Regions from separate parts of the Homo sapiens genome. Here all the other regions are reported to be linked to region 2. The links are microRNA targets in miRTarBase. Many come from high-throughput screens and were not tested one by one. Region 2 holds a microRNA gene; each other region holds the end of a gene's coding sequence.
What was found. Region 2 holds the annotated microRNA hsa-miR-7156-5p (UUGUUCUCAAACUGGCUGUCAGA, at 1,953-1,975, shown strand). A microRNA usually pairs through its seed, bases 2 to 8, with sites in the 3' UTR of a target mRNA and lowers its output. Matches are read on the target gene's strand: a 7mer-m8 pairs with bases 2 to 8, a 7mer-A1 pairs with bases 2 to 7 and ends in A, and an 8mer does both.

Region 1: the mRNA of WFDC6 is a reported target of hsa-miR-7156-5p. The part of its 3' UTR that is shown has no 7-base or 8-base seed match.
Region 3: miRTarBase lists MYO1F as a target of hsa-miR-7156-5p. The part of its 3' UTR that is shown has no 7-base or 8-base seed match.

What each region holds. Positions count from the first base shown.
Region 1 is chr20:45,531,523-45,534,873 of GRCh38, forward strand. It overlaps WFDC6 (WAP four-disulfide core domain 6), which reads right to left. Exons shown (of 3, transcript NM_080827.2): 3 at 2,674-2,983. The coding sequence ends at 2,945. LOC107987282 (a long non-coding RNA gene) reads left to right here. Exons shown (of 4, transcript XR_001754641.3): 2 at 1,752-1,804. Among named protein-coding and RNA genes, the nearest start is that of WFDC6, 6.3 kb to the right of the region's middle.
Region 2 is chr1:77,058,191-77,061,190 of GRCh38, forward strand. MIR7156 (microRNA 7156) reads left to right here and starts at 1,953; the gene lies at 1,953-2,012. All of the region lies in intron 4 of ST6GALNAC5 (ST6 N-acetylgalactosaminide alpha-2,6-sialyltransferase 5), which reads left to right.
Region 3 is chr19:8,518,859-8,522,092 of GRCh38, reverse strand. It overlaps MYO1F (myosin IF), which reads left to right. Exons shown (of 28, transcript NM_012335.4): 28 at 489-1,315. The coding sequence ends at 565. Among named protein-coding and RNA genes, the nearest start is that of ZNF414, 6.3 kb to the right of the region's middle.

The DNA of each region.
Region 1 (3,351 bases), not on the chromosome of region 2:
TCACCTATTCTGTGAATAAATTTTCTGAAAACTTAGCACTTTAAAGCAACCATTTTATATTGTGGGTCAGCCATCTGGGAAGCAATCTGCTTGGTGGTTCTTTTATAGGGTCTTTCCCATGGTTGCAGTCAGATGTCTGCTGGGGCTGCAGCCATCTGAAGGCTCTATTGGGTTGGGCATCTCATTTGCATGGCTGAAATTGATGCTGGCTATCAGTCAGAGCTTATCTGGGCCTGCTGATCACAGCACCCACATGGGTCTCTCTAGCATGGGCCTCTCTCAGAGTAGTTGGACATCTTACATGGCAGTTTCCCACTGCCCCCAAACAAGCTACATAAGAGGATCAAGTGGGACTTGCACTTATTCTAGCTTAGCCTTGGAGGTCACATAGCATCATTTTTGCTTTATTCTCTTGGTCAAAGCAGTCACAGAGTTTTCTCAGATTCAAAAGGAGGGGACATAGATCCCACTTCTAGGTGGAAGGTGAGTGAAAGAATTTTAGGACCTTGCTTTAAAACAGTCACACCATCCAGTGTCTTTTCCTCCTTCACCCCTTTCTTCTCCCTTCCTCTTTAACTCTTCTCTGCTTTCCTCCATCTCCCCCTTTCATGCCTGTCCAGCTATTTTCAATTTTGGAGTTTCTGCACCATACTATGGAACTGTCTTCTTTACTACAACTCCAGTAAACAAGTCCATGAGCCCTTTCAGAGACGGACTTACCATGAGGTCGATGGAGCCAAGCCTCAGGGTCCTCGCTCGAGCGAGCCCCTTTTAAGATTCTGGGAGTGCTTCTAGCTATATGTTTACATGGTCAGATGACTTGTAATATCTGCAAAAGTAAGATATTCTAACCATAATCGCCAATCCACCTTCCCTTTCCACTCTGACCTTTCCCTCTGTCACACTTCTCCTAGGTCAGGTGGTGTTTGGGCGACTGCCAGCATTTTAGGCATGCAAATTAAAAGGAAGTTGAGTTGGGGATATATTTATTTTGGAGTTAGTAGAATATATTTAGGTCGTTAGCTGTCATTTGTATGTGTAGGAAGTTGCTGCTAGCTGTCCTGGTGGAGAAGCAGCTGCAAATAATACTCCTGTTTTCTACTGGGCCTATTCCCTTGATGTTATGACACTAAGTTATGGGACTAGAGGTTGCACTGTAAAATGAATGTTCTTAGCCCAAGAAGGTTGCGGGTGGTAGAGGAGAAACAAGTTTTGAAATGTGTGGAGCCAGGAAAACAAGCCTGTGTAGCATTCTTTCAAATATCAGATACATCAATTTTTTTTTTGAGATGGAGTCTCACTCCACCGCCCAGGCTAGAGTGCAATGGCACGATCTTGGCTCACTGCAACCTCCACCTCCCGGGTTCAAGCAATTCTCCTGCCTCAGCCTCCTGAGTAGCTGGGGCTACAAGTGTGCACCACCACACCTGGCTAATTTCTTGTATTTTTAGTAGAGATGGGGTTTCACCACGTTGGCCAGTCTGGTCTTGAACTCTTGACATCAGGTGATCTGCCCCCTTCGGCCTCCCAAAGTGCTGGGATTACAGGCATGAACCACTGAGTCTGGTCAGATACATCACATTTTAATTAGAAAAAAAAAATCAGCTCTTATGGAAGCCTGTTCAGAAGTTCTTTTGTAGTAAGCATATACTTGATAATTCAATATGTACAATTTTAAATGTACCATGCATTTTTTCTTTTTTTAATAGAGTTGTACAAAAGATAATTTATTAAAATTCCTGTGTTTCTAGGACACAAACCTGTAACAGAACTGCAGACATCAAGCATGGCTTCAAGCATTCAGGTACATGTTTTATCCAATTCACCTATAATAAAAATTAAAATATCATATTTTGATCCCCACATTAAATAAAAAGTTATCTTTCCATTCTCTCCACAGAAATAGTGCTTTACAGAATTGAGGTCATAAATGTAAACAATGAATTATTAATTTATATGGGTTTTGTGCAATTTTTACTGTTTGTCAGCCTTTAAAAATTTGCAGCTGGTTGCAATTTCCCTCCTCATTTGAAATAATATTCTCTTTTGTACTCATTTGTGCTTGGTTTCTTTCTTTTTTCTTTTCTTTCTTTCTTTCTTTTTTTTTTTTTTTTTTTTTTGAGTTTTGTTCTTATTGCCCAGGCTGGAGTGCAATGGTGCAATCTCAGCTCACTGCAACTTTTGCCTCCTGGGTTCAAACAATTCTCCTGCCTCAGCCTCCCGAGTAGTTGGGATTACAGGCATGCACCACCACGCCTGGCTAATTTTGTATTTTTAGTAGAGATGGTGTTTCTCCACGTTGGTCAGGCTGGTCTTGAACTCCTGACCTCAGGTGATCCGCCCTCCTTGGCCTCCCAAAGTGCTGGGATTACAGGCGTGAGCCACCGTGCCCAGCCTGTGCTTGGTTTCTAAAGGAGCTCCTCATTTATCAGGTTTAGACCATACAAAATCTGGATCTGCACTGGCTCCATTCTTCAGCATCTTAACGACAACTTTACCAAAGTAACAATGTCACTAGCATTCTCAATTTGCAGGATTTTCATACTCTCTCCCTTTTTTGGTGTCACCAGAAAATGCAATGGCTTTTTGTTCTCTGAAAATTGCATATAGAGAGATGTGAGTGTATGTCAATATCAGCATATTGCAGATGTGAATTATTCAGCCTCGGAGAGATCGGACCCCACAGAGCACTTTATTAAGGCAACTGAAGCCTTCATACAAATAAATGGGGGGTCTGAAAGTTGAAGACATAGAGTTTCATACTGAGAAGTGGTCAAGGGGAAGAGCATTGTGTTTGAAGAGATGCTACGCTGGAAGAAAGTGTGTAAGCAATTCCTGGGGTTCAGTTTCTGGAACAGCCAAGGTTTGGCCCGTGGAAGCCAATTTGGAGCATCAATCAGGCACACGTGGAGAGAGGCCTGGATTATGAGCCAAATCCTGGAGGTTATTCAAGCTCCTCCTTATGGTATAAAGTAAGGCTGACCTGTGAAGCAGAAGAATAAAGGGTGAGATGCTTGGACCCTGACCACATTAGGAACCAAATCTTGCACCTAATGGGAAAAAGGAGGTGGGATCATTTTTACATCTTTGGGCAGGAATGGAATGAAGGTGAGTTTGGGGGCTCCTAGAATGATCATGAGTTCTGACTTGTCCAGTAGAGTCCCAGTTTATGCCTGTTGTCTCAGTGTAATAATTAATGGCACCTCACCTTGAGACACTTTCAAAAGTGATTTGGTTTGGCCAATAAAGTATGTGGTTGCCCTGGTTAGAAATAACCTTTCAAAGGAAGAGAAGTAGCAACAAGGTTTAGTGAGAAGTAAAGGACTATAATGATTGGCTGATGAATGGTGC
Region 2 (3,000 bases):
TCCAAACCTTGGCTGCGAAACTTCAGTTTTTCTGTGCATGAGTTTCCTCGTCTGCAGAGTAGGGGTGCTAATAGTAGCTCTCTGCTATAGTTTGGATATGTTTTGTTTGTTCCCACCAAATCTCATGTTGAAATTTGATCCTCAGTGTTGGACGTGGGGCCTAGTGGCAGGTGTTTGGGTCATGGGGGCAGATCCCTCATGAATAGATTAGTGCCCTCCCTGGGGCGGGGCATGAGTGAGTTCTCACTCTATTTGCCCCCAACAGAGCTAGTTGTTAAAAAGAGCCTGGCACCTCCCCCTTTCTCTTCTTCCTCTCTCGCCTTGTGATTTATGCACATGCCAGCTCCCCTTCACTTTCTGCTAGGAGTGGAAGCAGCCTGGGGCTCTCCCCAGATGCCCAACCTTGAATTTTTTGAGACATCAGAATCATGGGCCAAATAAGGCTTTTTTCTTTATAAATTACCCAGACTTGGGTATTCTTTTCTAGCAACACAAAATGGACTGACACTGTCTTATAGGGGTGTTGTGAGGACTAAATAAGTGAGTGTATGTGGAGTGCTGAGCACTGTGTTCTGAGCTGAAATAGTCAAGTCCAGCAGCTTGGATGGACAATAAGTCAGGTTGTGTGCTGAAAGCCAGGCAGTGGACTGTCTCCCTGGGTATCAGATGCTCCCTATCAAATGGGAGCTGCAATACTTGCCTCAGAGGGCTGATGAGGATGTAAAGGAGATCACATCAGTTAAGCGCAGAAGCTGAGCAGGTACTTACAAAATCAGTTGTCTCAAACTTAGCTGCATATTAGAATCTCAAGGAGCTTTCCACCATTTGAATCTTCTAAAAAGCTTTGTTGTTATGATATGTATTATTTAAAAATATGTTTATTTTTGTTTCAAATAATTTTAGAGTTACAGAAAGGTTGCAAAAATAATACTGAGAGTTCATATAACTTTTATCCAGCTTCCCCTAATGCGGATTTGCATTCCTATGGTCCAATTATCAAAAGTAAGAAATTAACATGAGTATAATGCTCAGCTAAACTACAGGCATTATTGAGATTTTACCAGTTTCTCTACTAATGTCCTTTATGTCCTCCAAGAACGAATCCAGGTTCCCTTTGCATTTATTTATCAGGTGTCCTCAGTCTCTAAATCCATGGCCGTTCCTCAGGCTTTCCCTGCATTTCATGACACTTTTGATGAGGACTAGTCACGTATTTCATAGAATGTCCTTCACTTGGGGTTTATCTAATGTTTTCCTGTGCTTAGATTGAGGTTATGCATTACTGAGAAGGATACCACAGAAGCCATAGGCCCTTCCCAGAATCTCATAACAGGAAGTATGTGATGTCCATACGTCTTATTACTGGCAATGTTAACCTTCATCACTTGGTTAAGGTAATGTCTGCTGGGTTTACCTATTGTAAAGATAGTATTTTTCCCTTTGTCATTAATAAATAACTTGGGAGAGATACTTTCAGGTTATGCAGGTAGCCTATTTCTCCTCATCTTTTTCCCCATTAATGTTCTGTTCATTTGGTGCATCTTGCCTGCGACAATTACTGCAACGTTCTGAGGATGGTTTCCTAGTCCCTCATTTTTTCTACATTGTTTATTGGAATTTTTCTGTCTTGAAATGCTGTTTCTTCTCCTCCATTTATTTGTTTATTTATTCAGTTATTTATTGAAATTATCATGGACTCATGGATATTTATTTTATTTTATTGGTTTTATAATCCAATACTGACATTGTTTATTTTGGTTCAAACCTAAGACACTTTCTAAAATACCTGTGCCTGAGTTCCTCTCCAAGTCATCCGAAGCAGAGTCTATGGGGTTGGAGCATAGGTATTTCCTTAAAGCTCCCCAACCGCACTAAATGTTAGTTCCCTCACTCTCCCCACCTGCTTCCTCTAAAAAGAAAAAAAAATTCTTCCTCAAATCATTCTGCAGGGCTTGTTCTCAAACTGGCTGTCAGAGTGTGCATGGCAGGCTGCAGCCACTTGGGGAACTGGTTCTGTGGTTATCTCCATTCCTGCCTCCCCAGCCCGCATATCCTTTCCTTCAGCTCACGGGGCCCACAATGGGAACTTGAGTACCAGAATTCCTTTTACAACTGCTTCCTCATGTGGAAATTCCGCTGAGGTTTATTGTAGTTTTCACTGAGGTCAGGTGAAGGAAGAAAAAAACTAGGGCAGTCTTTAGAAAGTCAGGTTTGAGAAAAGACCCAAGGAAGTATGACCTTCAGCTAGGAGTGTCTTTCTAAATGGCATAGTGAATTTAGTGAATTCCAGCTGATGGCAGGCTCACAGCTGGGGTAGATGTTCCTGCAGTTTCCAGCGCTGCCTTCTGAGTCCCAGAAAGCACTTTTCTGCTGCTTGGACAGAGTTTTAACATGTGGAAACAACTCGCTTACATGAATAACTTATCTTGACACCTCTGAAATCACAGTAACCAAATATGTAAATTTAATTCTCTTTTTAGGGGATCAATATGGAGTCAGATAAGTTTTTTTTCCAAAGAGATGGTCTTCCTGAATAAGGAAATTGATCCTGTAGCATCTTTAGCTGGTTTCCAATTGCCCCCTACTCCTAGGTGCCGAATCAATCTTATGATATTTTTAGAAACCTAACTGTTTCTTTAGTCAGATTGATGCCAATAAAATGTCCAAAACTTAGATGAATCAAATTTAAAGTGATTTGTGATGGAATAAAAGCTTAACCCCAAGCATACCATGGCAACATGAAATTGGCATGGTTCCCCCAAATTATGCCATATGAATATGGGAAGATATGTCTCACAAATTCTTATTTTTTTCTTCATAGTGGTCAGCTTCAACCTGAATTTTTGTTAGAAGGCATTTTTTGTGTTAAAAACACCTTCTATTAAAATTTTAATGGGATTCCAATTTCTAGGGTAAGTAAATTAATAAAATCTGCAATAACTAGTCAGGAAAGGATCCAGTGTTTCACTACAGAACATAGAGATAATTCCAAGACGGGCA
Region 3 (3,234 bases), not on the chromosome of region 2:
CGAGATTGCGCCAACACACTCCAGCCTGGGCGATAGAGCGAGACTCCGTCTCAAAAAAAAAAAAAAAAAGAACCCTGACTGACATTGCCAGGCAGACCCCACCACTGCACACCCTCCCCACGGGAGAACAGAGATAACAGATGGGCGAGGTGGCTCATACCTGTAATCCCAGCACTTTCAGTGGCTGAGGCAGGAGGATCACTTGAGGTCAGGAGTTTGAGACAAGCCTGGGCAACCTAGCAAGACCCCATCTCTACAAAAGATTTACAAAAAAAAAACTTTTAAAGAGTAGAAATGGCCGGATGCAGTGGCTCACACCTGTAATTCCAGCACTTTGGGAGGCTGAGGCAGGAGGATGGCTTAAGCCTAGGAGTTTAAGACCAGCCTGGACAACATAGGGAGTCCCCATGAACAAGATGGACAGACCAGGCATGAGAGCTTTCTCCAGGGCCAGCTAGGGGCACCTCAAGCTTTCCTCTCTCCCACAGATCCCTCGGGCTGGTGGAAGGGCCGGCTTCACGGCCAGGAGGGCCTTTTCCCAGGAAACTACGTGGAGAAGATCTGAGCTGGGCCCTGGGATACTGCCTTCTCTTTCGCCCGCCTATCTGCCTGCCGGCCTGGTGGGGAGCCAGGCCCTGCCAATGAGAGCCTCGTTTACCTGGGCTGCAATAGCCTAAAAGTCCAGTCCTTTGGCCTCCAGTCCTGCCCAGGCCCTGGGTCACCAGGTCACTGCTGCAGCCCCCGCCCCTGGGCCCTGGTCTTCCTCCAACATCACACCTGCTGCCCATTCTCCATTTCTGTGTGTGTCAAAGGGGACTAACAGCAGAATCTACCTCCCAACTGCCATGTGATTAAGAAATGGGTCTTGAGTCCTGTGCTGTTGGCAAAGTGCCAGGCACAGTTGGGGAGGGGGGGGTCCTTAACAAGCGTGACTTTGCTCATTCTGTCATCACTAAGGCAATAAACCTTTGCCAGGTGAAAGCACGAGTTAACTTACTAAGTGCCCAACAAGGACGATGTTTTCACAGCCCTGTGAGGTAGGAGCTGTGAAGGACCCCATCTTACAGGTGGAACAATGGAGGTTCAGAGAGGTTCACTGACCCAAGACTGCACAGAGCCATGCCTTGCATTCATATGTGACCATAAAGCTTGAATTTGTCCCAGTTTGGGCTGGGCGCAGTGGCTCACGCCTGTAATCCCAGCACTTTGGGAGGCTGAGGCGGGCAGATCACGTGAGACCAGGAGTTCAAGACCAGCCTGGATAACACAGCAAAACCCTGTTTCTACTAAAAATTTAAAAAAGAAAAAAAAAAAAGCCGGGTGTGGTGGTGCCTGCCTGTAATCCCAGCTACTGGGAAGGCTGAAGCAGGAGAATCACTTGAACCCGGGAGGCAGAGGCTGCCGTGAGCCGAGATCATGCCACTGCACTCCAGCCTGGGCAACAGAGCAAGACCCTGTCTCAGAAAAAAAGAAAGGAAGGAAGGGAGGGAGGGAGGGAGGAGGTGGGCGCGGTGCCTCACACCTGTAATCCTAGCACTTTGGGAGGCCGAGGCGGGCAGATCACAAGGTCAGGAGATCGAGACCATCCTGGCTAACATGGGGAAACCTTGTCTCTACTAAAAATACAAAAAAGTAGCCGGGCGTGGTGGCGGGCGCCTGTAGTCCCAGCTGCTCGGGAGGCTGAGGCAGGAAAATGGCATGAACCTGGGAGAAGGAGCTTGCAGTGAGCCGAGATTGCGCCACTGCCCTCCAGCCTGGGCAACAGAGCGAGACTCCATCTCAAAAAAAAAAAAAAGAAAGAAAAGAAAATAAAGAATTTGTCTCAGTTTCCCTTCCAAAATCTGCATCCCAAATGGTCCAGCAGGTCCTGTTAGTCTTGAAGCTACAGCCGCCAAACCCATCTGGGACCTATGGAGAGAGGCAGGTCCCACATGCCACATGCTCCCACCCTCAATGCACTCTGGGTCACTCCTGCCCCCTGCACCCCAATCCCATTTCTGTGCCCTCTTAGTCTTCACCTAACTGGGACTAAGACTGGAGTCCTGCTATGGTCTGAGCCTAAAGATCCTGAATTTTGGGCTGGGCGCAGTGGCTCATGCCTGTAATCCCAGCACTTTGGGAGGCCAAGGCGGGCGGATCATCTGAGGTCAGGAGTTCCAGACCAGCCTCACCAACATGGTGAAACCCTGTCTCTACTAAAAATACAAAAATTAGCTGGGCATGGTGGCACGTGCCTGTAGTCCCTGATACTTGAGAGGCTGAGGCAGGAGGTGGAGGCTGCAGTGAGCCAAGACTGCACCATGGAATTCCAGTCTGAGCAATAGAGTGAGACTCTGTCTCAAAAAAAAAAAAAAATTCCTGAATTTTGGGAGTGGTGGTGCATGCCTGTAGTCCCAGCACTTTGTGAGGCCGAGGCTGGAGGATCACTTGATCCCGGGAGTTCAAGGCTGAAGTGAGCTATGATCGCGTCACTGCACTCCAGCCTGGGCAACTCAGCAAGACCCTGTCTCTAATACTAAAATAAACCAAATCCTGGCCAAGCATGGTGCCTCACAGCTGTAATCCCAGCACTTTGGGAGGCCAAGGCAGGAGGATCACTTAAGGTTTGACCACCCTAGGCAACCTACTAATACCCTGTCTCTACAAAAAAATTTTAAAATTGGCCGGGCACGGTGGGTCACACTTGTAATCCCAGCACTTTGGGAGGCCAAGGCGGGCAGATCATAAGGTCAGGAGATCGAGACCATCCTGGCTAACACAGTGAAACCCCATCTCTGCTAAAAATACAAAAAATTAGCCGGGCGTGATGGTGCGCGCCCGTGGTCCCAGCTACTCGGGAGGCTGAGGCAGCAGAATTGCTTGAACCTGGGAGGCGGAGGTTGCAGTGAGCCGAGATGGCGCCACTGCACCCCAGCCTGGGTGACAGAGTGAGACTCCATCTCAAAAAAAAAAAAAGCTAGTGTCATGCCTGTATTCCCAGATACTCAGGAGGCTGAGATGGGAGGATCACTTGAGCCCAGCAGGTCGAGGCTGCAGTGAGCTGATTACAACATTGTACTCCAGCCTGGGCAACAGAGCTAACCCTGTCTCTCTCTAAAAATAATAATAATAATAATAATAATAATAATTAATTGTAGCTTTCTAATATGGACACCCGCTCTGTGCTCAGCCCCTCAAAGAGAAGCCAGTCCAGTAGAGATGGGGCTGACTGGTGAGGTGAGGACTGGCCCACAG